Homo sapiens: one gene and its partner. The protein of the gene in region 2 purifies or fractionates together with the protein of the main gene of each other region. This does not show direct contact. Each region holds a gene or a part of one and is shown on either strand. Other genes may lie near its edges.

Evidence for each region.
Region 1: the proteins of RAI1 (region 2) and ACAD11 purify together in Homo sapiens (affinity purification with mass spectrometry, with the first as the bait; one large-scale study listed by BioGRID). This does not show direct contact.

The regions. Positions count from the first base shown.
Region 1 is NC_000003.12:132,649,038-132,654,482, reverse strand, and holds part of ACAD11 (acyl-CoA dehydrogenase family member 11), read left to right. Parts: exon of another isoform or gene 1-53; intron 54-5,445. UniProt on the Homo sapiens protein: Acyl-CoA dehydrogenase, that exhibits maximal activity towards saturated C22-CoA.
Region 2 is NC_000017.11:17,798,741-17,803,522, reverse strand, and holds part of RAI1 (retinoic acid-induced protein 1), read right to left. Parts: intron 1-4,782. UniProt on the Homo sapiens protein: Transcriptional regulator of the circadian clock components: CLOCK, BMAL1, BMAL2, PER1/3, CRY1/2, NR1D1/2 and RORA/C. Positively regulates the transcriptional activity of CLOCK a core component of the circadian clock.

The sequences.
Region 1 (5,445 bases), on a different chromosome or scaffold from region 2:
GGATGCCTGGCCACAGCAGATGCTATCTTATCACCTCAGTCCACCACACATATGCTTACTACTCTGAGTGGTCAGTGATTTCACTGTAAGCTGAGTCACTTGTCATAAGTGACTCCATTATGAGACATTTATGATCATAAAACATAATTATATATCAGTGCATAATAGGCTATACCATCTAGGTTTGTGTAAGTGCACTCTAGGATGTTTACACGTGACAAAAATCACTTAACAACATATTTTCCAGAACACATCCCTGTCATTAAGCAATGCATGACTGTATTTTGAAGGGTTTACTAACTGATTAAATGTGGGCTAGGAAAGGAAGAGACGAAGATTATTTCATTTCTGCCTTGGTAACTGAAAGAATAGGGTTATTGTGAACTGAAATGTAGGTGACTATAGAAAAGCAGATTTGAGGGGGAAATTTGAGGAACTCAGTTTTGGAGTGTTAAGTTTCAAGATGCCTTTTAGACATCCAAGTAGATATGTATAGTAAGCAGTTGGTTATGTCTTGAGGTCGGGGCAGAGATCTGGACTAGACATATAAATTTGAGAGCCATCGACAAAAAGAAGATATTTAAAGACATAAGATCGAAGGTCTTACTTAGAAAATAGTTCACATAAAAAGGAGGTTTGGAGACTGAGTCCAAGGCACCCCAATATTAAGAAGTTAGCAAATTAAGAGAAACCTACAAAGGAGTCTTAGAAGAAGTGGCCAAAGAGGTGGGGGAAAACCATGGTTTGTATTAGTGATCTTGAAAAAGTAGTATTAATGGAAAGAAGGGAATGAAAGCTTGATTGAAATGGGTTTAAGAAGATAGGAGGAGGACGTGTAATCTCTTGAGGAGTTTTTCTACGAAAGGAAATAGAAATGTTTTAAGTAGGGGGGAAGTGAGGTCAAGAGAAAGCTTTTTAAAAAATAACATCATATTTGTATGCTGATGACAGTAATCTAGAAGAGAAAATTTTGTGTAGGAGAGAGGCCTGGAAAGAAGTCCTTAAGAAGGCAGGACTCTAATATGCAAGAGAAGGGGTTGCCCTTAGATAGAAATGTGCACGTCCTTCTGCAGACTTTGGAGGGAAGACAGAATATATGTGTACAGATTATTGTATGCAGTAGATACAGTAGTGTAAGCTTGTGGAAGTTCTCATCTGATTGCTCCTATTTGCTCGTTGAAATAGGAACCTAGGTAATTAATTAGCTGAGAATGAAGATGGAGAAGAAAGTGTTTGAGGTTTGAGGAGAGAGAATTATGAAACAGCCATCCAAGAGAATGGGAGAATAAATGAGCTAAGGAAATATGATTGCCAGATGTGGTTCACTTTGAGGTTTGCTGAGGTCATGAATTTGAAGCAAGAATAGATATTTCAGTAGATATTACTAATGCTTTGTCCAGATCCTCTTGGATCCCTTTCTAGTGTTGCTGTACATGTCCTGCCTTTGTTGGTTTTTGCTTCCAATAAACAGCATCTATGCCTCTTTTTTTGGTAAACTGCCCTCAGGCTATTGGAGCACCCTTTGCTCTTACTGTTGTAGTACCTGAGGTGGACCTTAACCAATAGTGATTCAGAAGTATGAAATTTTCATTATCCTTGCTTCAGAGACATGTTTTGAACTTTGACACGGCAGAGTTCCCCCATTACCTTTACCCCCACCTACACACTGGTGAGATCAGGCTGAAGCTACCCTCTAAGGGACTTTGTCTTAGATCACACCTTTGCTTAGCTTTCTCCCCTTTCTTGACCTGCTTCCCCAAATTTCTTATTAGTTCCCCAAACATTTCCTTAATAAGTCACTTGTATATAATTTTTTTTCTCATGATCTGTTTATTGGGAACCTAACCTAAAACAGTAATTATGACTGTATGTGTCTTTCTTCAGCTATGGCCAGTTATATCAGTGTAAGCAAAAAAAAAATGGATTTAACATGGATGGGAGTTTTGCCAAGCAAACACCATGAAGTGAGGAAAGGGCAAGTGAAGTATACTGAAGGTGTATTCAAGGTAGTGGTTATATGATTTGCTATCAAATTTAACCTAGTTAAGGAAAGATTTATTAGTCTGTTCTCATATTGCTAATAAAGACATACCCGAGACTGGGTAATTTATAAAGGAAAGAGGTTTAATGGACTCACAGTTCCACATGGCTGGGGAGTCCTCACAATCATGGCAGAAGACAAAGGAAAAGCAAAGGGATGTCTTACATGAAGTCAGGCAAGAGAGAATGTGTACAGGGGAACTCTCCATTATAAAACCATCAGATCTCATGAGACTTATTCACCATCATGAGAACAGCACAGGAAAGACCCACTGCCATTATTCAATTACCTCCTACCAGGTCTCACCCATGATACATGGGAATTGGGAATTATGGGAGCTACAATTCAAGATAAGATTTGGGTGGGGACACAGCCAAACCATATCATTCCACCCCTGACCCTTCCCAAACGTCATGTCCTCATATTTTAAAATGAATCATGCCTTCTGACAGTCCCCCAAAGTCTTATTTCAGCATTAACTCAAAAGTCCACCGTCCAAAGTCTCATCTGAGACAAGGTAAGTCCCTTCTGCCTATGAGCCTGTAAAATCAAAAGCAAGCTAGTTACTTCCTAGATACAATGGGGGTACAGGCATTAGGTAAATATACCTGTTCCAAATGAGAGAAATTGTCCAAAATAAAAGGGGCTACAGGCCCCATGCAAGTCCAAAATCCAGTGGGACAGTCTTAAAGTTCTAAAATGATATCCTTTGACTCCATGTTCACATCCAGGTCACAGTGATGCAAGAGGTGGGCTCCCACAGTCTTGGGCAAAGGATATGGTCGGGGGATATGAGGTGAATGGCAGTATGATCAATGGATGGTAGGTCAAGTATTGATTGAAGGATTGTTGGAATTGAGGCACTAGCAGGAGTGAGTGGAAAGGTAGGAGGTTAGAGGTAGAAATGTTTAGAAACTAGGATTATTCAGTGCTTTTACTGTTGATATTGCTAAAGTGTAGGGTGTAACTCCTAGAATTACTGGCTGAGATAGTGTCAAGGAAAATATCACTGGTGGAGAAAATTCAAGGAACTGATGGGCCTAAATGTTAAAAGGGACATCTGTGTAGATTTTGAAATCAGTAATTAAGACAGGAGTAGTGTTAATGAGAGTAATAGTGAATTATGCCAAGATCCTTAAGAAATGAGGAGAAATGATCTGAGAGTTAGTAGGTGACTGCAAGAAAAAGGGGTAGAGGGTGGCAGAGTCTCATGGCCTGAGATTCAAAGCTGAGGGAAGAATTTACACAGGAGGGAGAGCAAAGAGTCTGGAAGTAGCAATGAGTTTCAGGAAGGATACAGACTCCATCCAGGCTTACTAGAAGACTGATGTGGGAAAAACATCTACCACTTAAGAAGCCTACAAAGGAAACAGGATCCTCATGGAATATTCAGGTTTTAGTTAGAGCAAGGAGGTGAAGGGTCTATTCAGAGAAGATATTGAAGCTGTATGGAATTGTGAAAGACTGTGAGTTCCAGGGGCACAGTGGAAGGATATCAGGAGTTGAGGGGGTGGAGAAGATGTGGGAGAAAATAGGGAATGTGCAGAGCCTTATGGGAATTACAATGCAGTAAACAAGTATAAAAGGGGAATTTGGGACTTCTGGTATTGATGATATAAAGAGGGATAAAGAACACAATGAAACCAGTTCCGGTGGTCTCAAGGTAGTAGTGCTGTCAGTGATAGGAAATGGGAAGTTGTAGGTATGTATTGGGGCTGGGGAGGGACAGTCTTACACTAAGTTAAGTAGTCTGGACTCACTGTTTTTCTTATTTTTTTAGTGATGCCAACTTTAAAAGCCTTTGTCCTCTATCATGAATTGTACTTTCTACCTATTTATCATGTGGATAAAGTGCAACTGTATTTCCTTACCCTGTGTATATTCAGATATTCAAAATGTCTAATAATATATGAAATAGCAGCCCAAGTATGATTTTTTAAAAAAACTGTCACTAAACTGACTTCCTACAAATCAGAGTAGGATTTCATGACTGTGTGTTCATGTTCAAACTTCATGTTGAGTTTTGGTTGCCTTATTCTGTTTCTGTAGTCATGGTTCCAGAAGACACACCTCTAGAGGATGGGCAACCACTTCTAGGGAAGTCCCTAGCAAAGCACCTAGCATGGTGCTAGCTCTGTTACACTGTGATAACGGCAGGGTTTTTACCCTCTCCAGCTCTTTTGGCTGATGTTAAATTCTTCCTTCTCAGTAATGAGATTCTTGACCAGTCATTGATGACTCCATTGCACTTGTCAGGAGTCTTGTGTTTGACTTCATCTTTGATTCTGCTTTGCCGTCTCTCATTTTTCACTGTGGCCTATTGAATACATAGGATCTGAGCAACTTCTTACAAGAAACTCTGTCTCTTTGTTTCTCGTTTTCCAGCTTTGTACTTCTATGCCTCTTGGACCAAATACTCAGTGTTTCCATGGGCAAACACTGGGTCATTTGTCTTTTAATCTTCTTTTTTCCTGATCTCTTATCAACAGCAAACACATTTGAGATGCTGTTGGCATCAATATAAAAAGTTATTTAAATTTGTGGAAATCCAAAGGGTTTAGGAGGAATGCCCGTGAGTTCAAATTTGCCGGGCTGGTTGTTATCCTTCATCATTGCTCACTCAATTTTGTAAACCTTAATGAGCAAACCTGAAGGGGGCCAGCCCCTCCACACCTGTGGGTATTTCTAGTCAGTCTGGACAAGAGACTGAGAAAAGAAATAAGACACAGAGACAAAGTATATAGAAAGAAAAGTGGGCCCAGGGGACCGGCGCTCAGCATACGGAGGACCTTCACCAGCACCAGTCTCTGAGTTCCCTCAGTATTTATTAATTACTGTTTTCACTGTCTCAGCAAGAGCAATGTGGCAGGACAGCAGGGTGATAGTGGGGAGAAGGTCAGCAAGAAAACATGTGAGCAAAGGAATCTGTGTCACAAATAAGTTCAAGGGAAGGTACTATGCCTAGATGTGCACGTAGGCCAGATTTATGCTTTTCTCCACCCAAACATCTCAGTAGAGTAAAGAGTAACAGAGCAGCATTGCTGCCAACATGTCTCACCTCCCACCACAGGGTGGCTTTTCTCCTATCCCAGAATTAAACAAATGTACAATTGGGTTTTATACCGAGACATTCAGTTCCCAGGGGCAGGCAGGAGACAGTGGCCTTCCTGTATCTCCACTGCAAGAGGCTTTCCTCTTTTACTAATCCTCCTCAGCACAGACCCCCTACGGGTGTCGGGCTGGGGGACGGTCAGGTCTTTCCCATCTCACGGGGCCATATTTCAGACTATCACATGGGGAGAAACCTTGGACAATACCTGGCTTTCCAGGGCAGAGGTCCCTGCGGCTTTCCGCAGTGCATTGTGCCCCTGGTTTATCGAGACTGGAGAATGGTGATGACTTTT
Region 2 (4,782 bases):
CAGGAAGGTGAGGTGGGAGGATTGCTGCAGCCTGGGAGGTTGAGGCTGCAGTGAGCCGAGATGACGCCACTGCCTGTACTCCAGCCTGGGCAAGAGTGAGACCCTGCCTCAAAAAACAAACAAACAAACAAACAAAAAAAACACAAAAAACCTGTACAGGCTGGCTGGCCCCCTGTGGTCCCTGCCTCCCTTCTCCAAAATGGTGCTTGAAAATCTACCAGAAGGAGGTTCAGCACTGGGGTACACATGCCCACAAACATGGGTCATTTAGCACCCTCTGGGCTGGTACATTGGGTAGGGAGACCCCCTTGGGCCAGTGATGCCAGTTACTACCATGGCTGTGGCTACCAGCCAGCATCTGCTGCATGCTTCTGGTGTGCTGGGCGTGGTGTGTGTCCTTGCCCACTGGCTTGCTTTTTTTTTTTTTTTTTTTTTTTGAGACAGAATTTCACTCTGTCCCCCCGGGGCTGGAGTGCAATGGTGTGATCTCCGCTCACGGCAACCGCTGCCTCCTGTGTTCAAGTGATTCTCCTGCCTTAGCCTCCCGAGTAGCTGGGATTACAGGCATGTGCTGCCATGCCCAGCTAATTTTTGTATTTTTAGTAGAGACGGAGTTTCACTGTGTCGGCCAGGCTGGTCTCGAACTCCCGACCTCAGGTGATCTGCCTGCCTAGGCCTCCCAAAGTGCTGGGATTACAGGTGTAAGACATAGCGCCTGGCCTACTGGCTCTTTTTTCTTTTGCTTTTGAGATGGAGTCTTGCTCTGTTGCCCAGGCTAGAGAGCAGTGGCACAATCTTGGCTCACTGCAAGCTCCGCCTCCCGGGTTCACGCCATTCTCCTGCCTCAGCCTCCCCAGTAGCTGGGACTACAGGTGCCCGCCACCACGCCAGGCTAATTTTTTGTATTTTTAGTAGAGACGGGGTTTCTCCGTGTTAGCCAGGATGGTCTCGATCTCCTGACCTCGTGATCCGCCCACCTCAGCCTCCCAAAGTGCTGGGATTACAGGCGTGAGCCACCGCGCCTGGCCGCCTACTGGCTCTAACAGCCCTCTGTGGGTCCCTTTCATTAATCTCACTTTACAGATGGTGAAACTGAGGCTCCCATTCCAGGCAACAGTGAAGGCATTCAGCATGGTTTTCTACCCTTTCTGGCAGCAGGAGCACTTTGAAGCTAGGCTGGGACTGTTCTACCTAGGATGAGACCTGCACCCTCCAGGGGACCAGCTCTCAGACCTGTGAGAGGAGGCGGTGACGTGGTAATCCCTTGAGATGGCTGACTTCATGTAAATCTGATGCCGTCCTCCTCTAAGTCTCAAAACTGTCCTCTGCTGAGCTTGGGGGCTGCCCCACACCTGGACCAGCTGCTTGGAGTGGACGTGGCCAGGACAGGACAGTCACACCAAGAAGGCCCTTGGAAGAGTGAAGCAAACCTGAGGCCGGGGAGGGAGAAGTCACCAGGCGCCAGAGCCACAGTGCCACCGTGCTGGGGGCGGGGGGTGAGGTAGAGAAGGCAGCAGAGAGGGCGGCGGCCTCTGCCCAAGTGCGAAGCCAGTGAAACAAACGACAATAGCTTCCTATGTGCCAGGCATGGCTGGAAGCCTCATGCCCACAGCAACCTTATGATGGGATTACTGTTATTTTACCTGGGTTACCAATGAGAGCTGAGGCTGAGTAACCTGCCCGAGGGCTCCAGGCTGGTCTCTGACCCCTGCAGCTGCCTCCAGGCTGGAGTAGGGGCCCACAGGACCCCACATGCTCAGGGTGGGCGCACCATCCCAACCACAGCAGCTGAGAAATGTCAGAACACTCCCCTCCCCGCTGCCCATGCTGGGAGTGGGGCCTGGGGTTTATTCTAGAATTTCAGGTTTTCAGCTCAGGGCTGAGGCCTCCTTCCCGCCTAGTCTGGGATGGCCTCCTGGAGATCTGGAGTCCAGCGTCCCCAGTTCCTGACCCAAAAGGGATGACGAAACACAAGCCGGCTGCTGTCTGTGAGTGGCCCTTGGTGTCTGGATGTTTAAGCATATGGGGGTCCTCTGGCTGAAGGCTTCTCTCCACTTACTGCACGGAGGCCCCAACCACCCTCAGGCAGGCATATGAATAGCATTTTAGATGTGAAGAAACTAAGATGCAGAGAGAGTGAGGCCTCAGGCCCTTCTGACCCCAGCTACCCAAGAGGAGGGCAGGGGTGGCGGCATGTAAACCCTGCCACAGGTGGGGCCTCTGCAGACACCACCTAGCCCCCTAACAATGCCCGGAGCCCGCTATGGGTCCCTCTCACCCCAAGCATTCCATGGCCAGGCTCCATCTGGATAGGAGGTAGGGGTCTATGATGGCTTTGGGGGAAGGGCAGGCAGGGCTCAGAGATAGCAGGCGAGGGCAGTTCCCAGAAAAGGCCATCGAGGAAAAAAGGTATCCCTGAGAGCTGGCTCAGAGGTTCTGCCCTCCAGAGCGCAAAAGTGAGGTCAAGGTACCGAGGGGTGTGGCAGTGCTGGGGCCAGGGACACAGCTGCACCCCAAGCCCCTTCCACATGCCAGGCAGGTCCCACATGATCCACAGAACCCCACAATCCTGCTAACGGGGTTTGACATTGTGGAGTTCTCAGAGCATGCGTGACTCGCCTGGAGCTATGGAACCAGCCCTCGGCAGAGCTGGGATTTGAACCAGGGTCTCACTCCAAGGAGCATGGCGCCCCCAAGCCACTGAGGCAGGAAGGGGTGGTGAGCCAAAAGTGACCCTGGGAAGCCCCAGACTCTGCCCATTCTCCCAGGATGTCCCATCTGTCTGGCAGGGTGTTCCTGGTTCCGACCTTCCCGGGGCAGCCCTAGTTGCGCAGGCTGTCAGGCCATTTCTGGAGCATGGCACAGCAGACAGGCATGGGCTGGGCTGGCAAGTTCCAGCCCCCGCGTGGTGTAGGGAAGCTAGCGCCTCTCCAACACACACTGTCTCCTCAGTCCAGCAGGACCTTGTGTGTGCATGGGCGGTTAAGACACCCATGGGCCAGGGACAGGATGGGGTGGTCGGTGCTCGGGGCTGACCCCTCCTCCCTTCGGCCGGCCAGTGCTGGCTGCAGGGGATGTGGAGACGACCTGATCTCAGCCTGGTGGGACGTGAGTGTCGGGGAGCCCCTGGTGAGGCTGCGGGACCGAGGATGCCGTGGGGACAAGGCTTTCAGGAATGGGGCTGTGAAGCAGGGGAGGTGGCAGCCAGCTGGGGCTGGTGATCTGAGGGTTATTATTTTTTGATGACGGGAGAGACTTGAACCTGTTTCAAGGCGCTGGGAAGGAGCCAGTAATGAGAGAGAGAGAGAGAGAGAGAGAGAGAGAGAGAGAGAGAGAGAGAGACAGAGAGAGACAGAAAGCAGGAGAGAGGCAAAAAATCACTAACTGGGAAGGGGAGAGGGAAGAGGCCCAAGGCCACCATCTGCTGGGTAAGCAAGGCCCGCGGCACCAGGAACCTGCAGGAGTCCTGTCGGGGCCAGCCTTCCTCTGAGGTGGAGGGTGGAGTGAGGTGGGCAGGGCGTCTGGGCGTGGAGAAGGTCTCCAGCCATCCCCATGGGCAGTGGGAAGCAGGTGCCCAAGACACACACTAGGAGGCGTGGGTGGCAAACACAGTGGGCCCCCACCGGGACCTTGGTTTGGCCAGGCAATGCCACGGCAACTGTCAGGAGCAGGGGCTGCTCAGAGGGGCTGCAGGGGTGTACTGCGAGGAGCAGGTGGGCAGTGCAGCGACGGGGGAGGAGGCTGGGCAGGGGGAGGGGCGAAGCCACCGGCTGGGGCCACTGTGCTGGGTCACTGAATCACTCAGATGCAGGCAGTGTTTGTCCAGGGCCTCTGGAGACCCCTGCCAAGCCCCTCTGGCTCCCCTGTGACCTCAGCCGCACATAGTGGGTTGAAGGAAGGAGTGGAGGGGATGGGACTCAGGGCAGGGGCCAGAGAAGGCTGCAGGCGTCCCCACTGAGAGCCACCACACAGCGCTGAGAGCCGGGAGCGTCACTCCACGGAAGTCTGGATGAGGCAGTGGAGTCGGGGTTGAATGTGGGGGCAGAAGCATGGCCCCGGGGGAGAGGTGCACCCCACCGCCCCCACTGACCCCTCCCTCAGAAGGGCACAGAGGTACTCTATGGTACTGGGGAAGTGGTGACACCACGAAGAACGTCACCCTGCTGTCACCAGAGCCACCAGGCCCCTCTGCACTGACTATCACAGGGCTGCTGTGCTCGGTGGGCTCAGAGGTGCCCACCTTTTAACCCTCCCGACCCCTCCTCCATGGGCACCCTCATACCCACGTTAGGGGCGAGGGGACGGAGGCACAGAGAGGGCAGGTCACAGCCCCAAAGGTGCATGGCGGCACAGCCCCAGAGTTCCCTCTCTCATGTTGGTGCTCAGTGACTATGGCTTCCAAAGCTGGTCTCAGAGCCAATGGTGAGAGGGTCTGGATCTGCCCCGCCCTGCCTGTTGTGACTGTGTGACCCCATGGACTGTCCTGCAGAGGGAGGAACCCTGTGACTGGGTCCATGCACCAAGCCTGTGTCGCCAGAGAGGGTCTTCCTGAGCCCTTAGCTTCATCCCAGAGGCAATGGAGACAGGAACAGAGGGTGGGCAACTTGCTCTTGCACCGCCCGGGGCAGCCCTGATGTTCAATCTTGGGAGTCCTCGTGTTCTCTGGGCCTTGGCATCTCCGGTGACAGCATGGGGAGGGGCCCAGTGGATTCTGGGTGGGGCTGGAGCCTGAAGATGCCAGGTGAGTGGGAGAGTGGCGGTGGCTGGGCATACGGGCCCCGG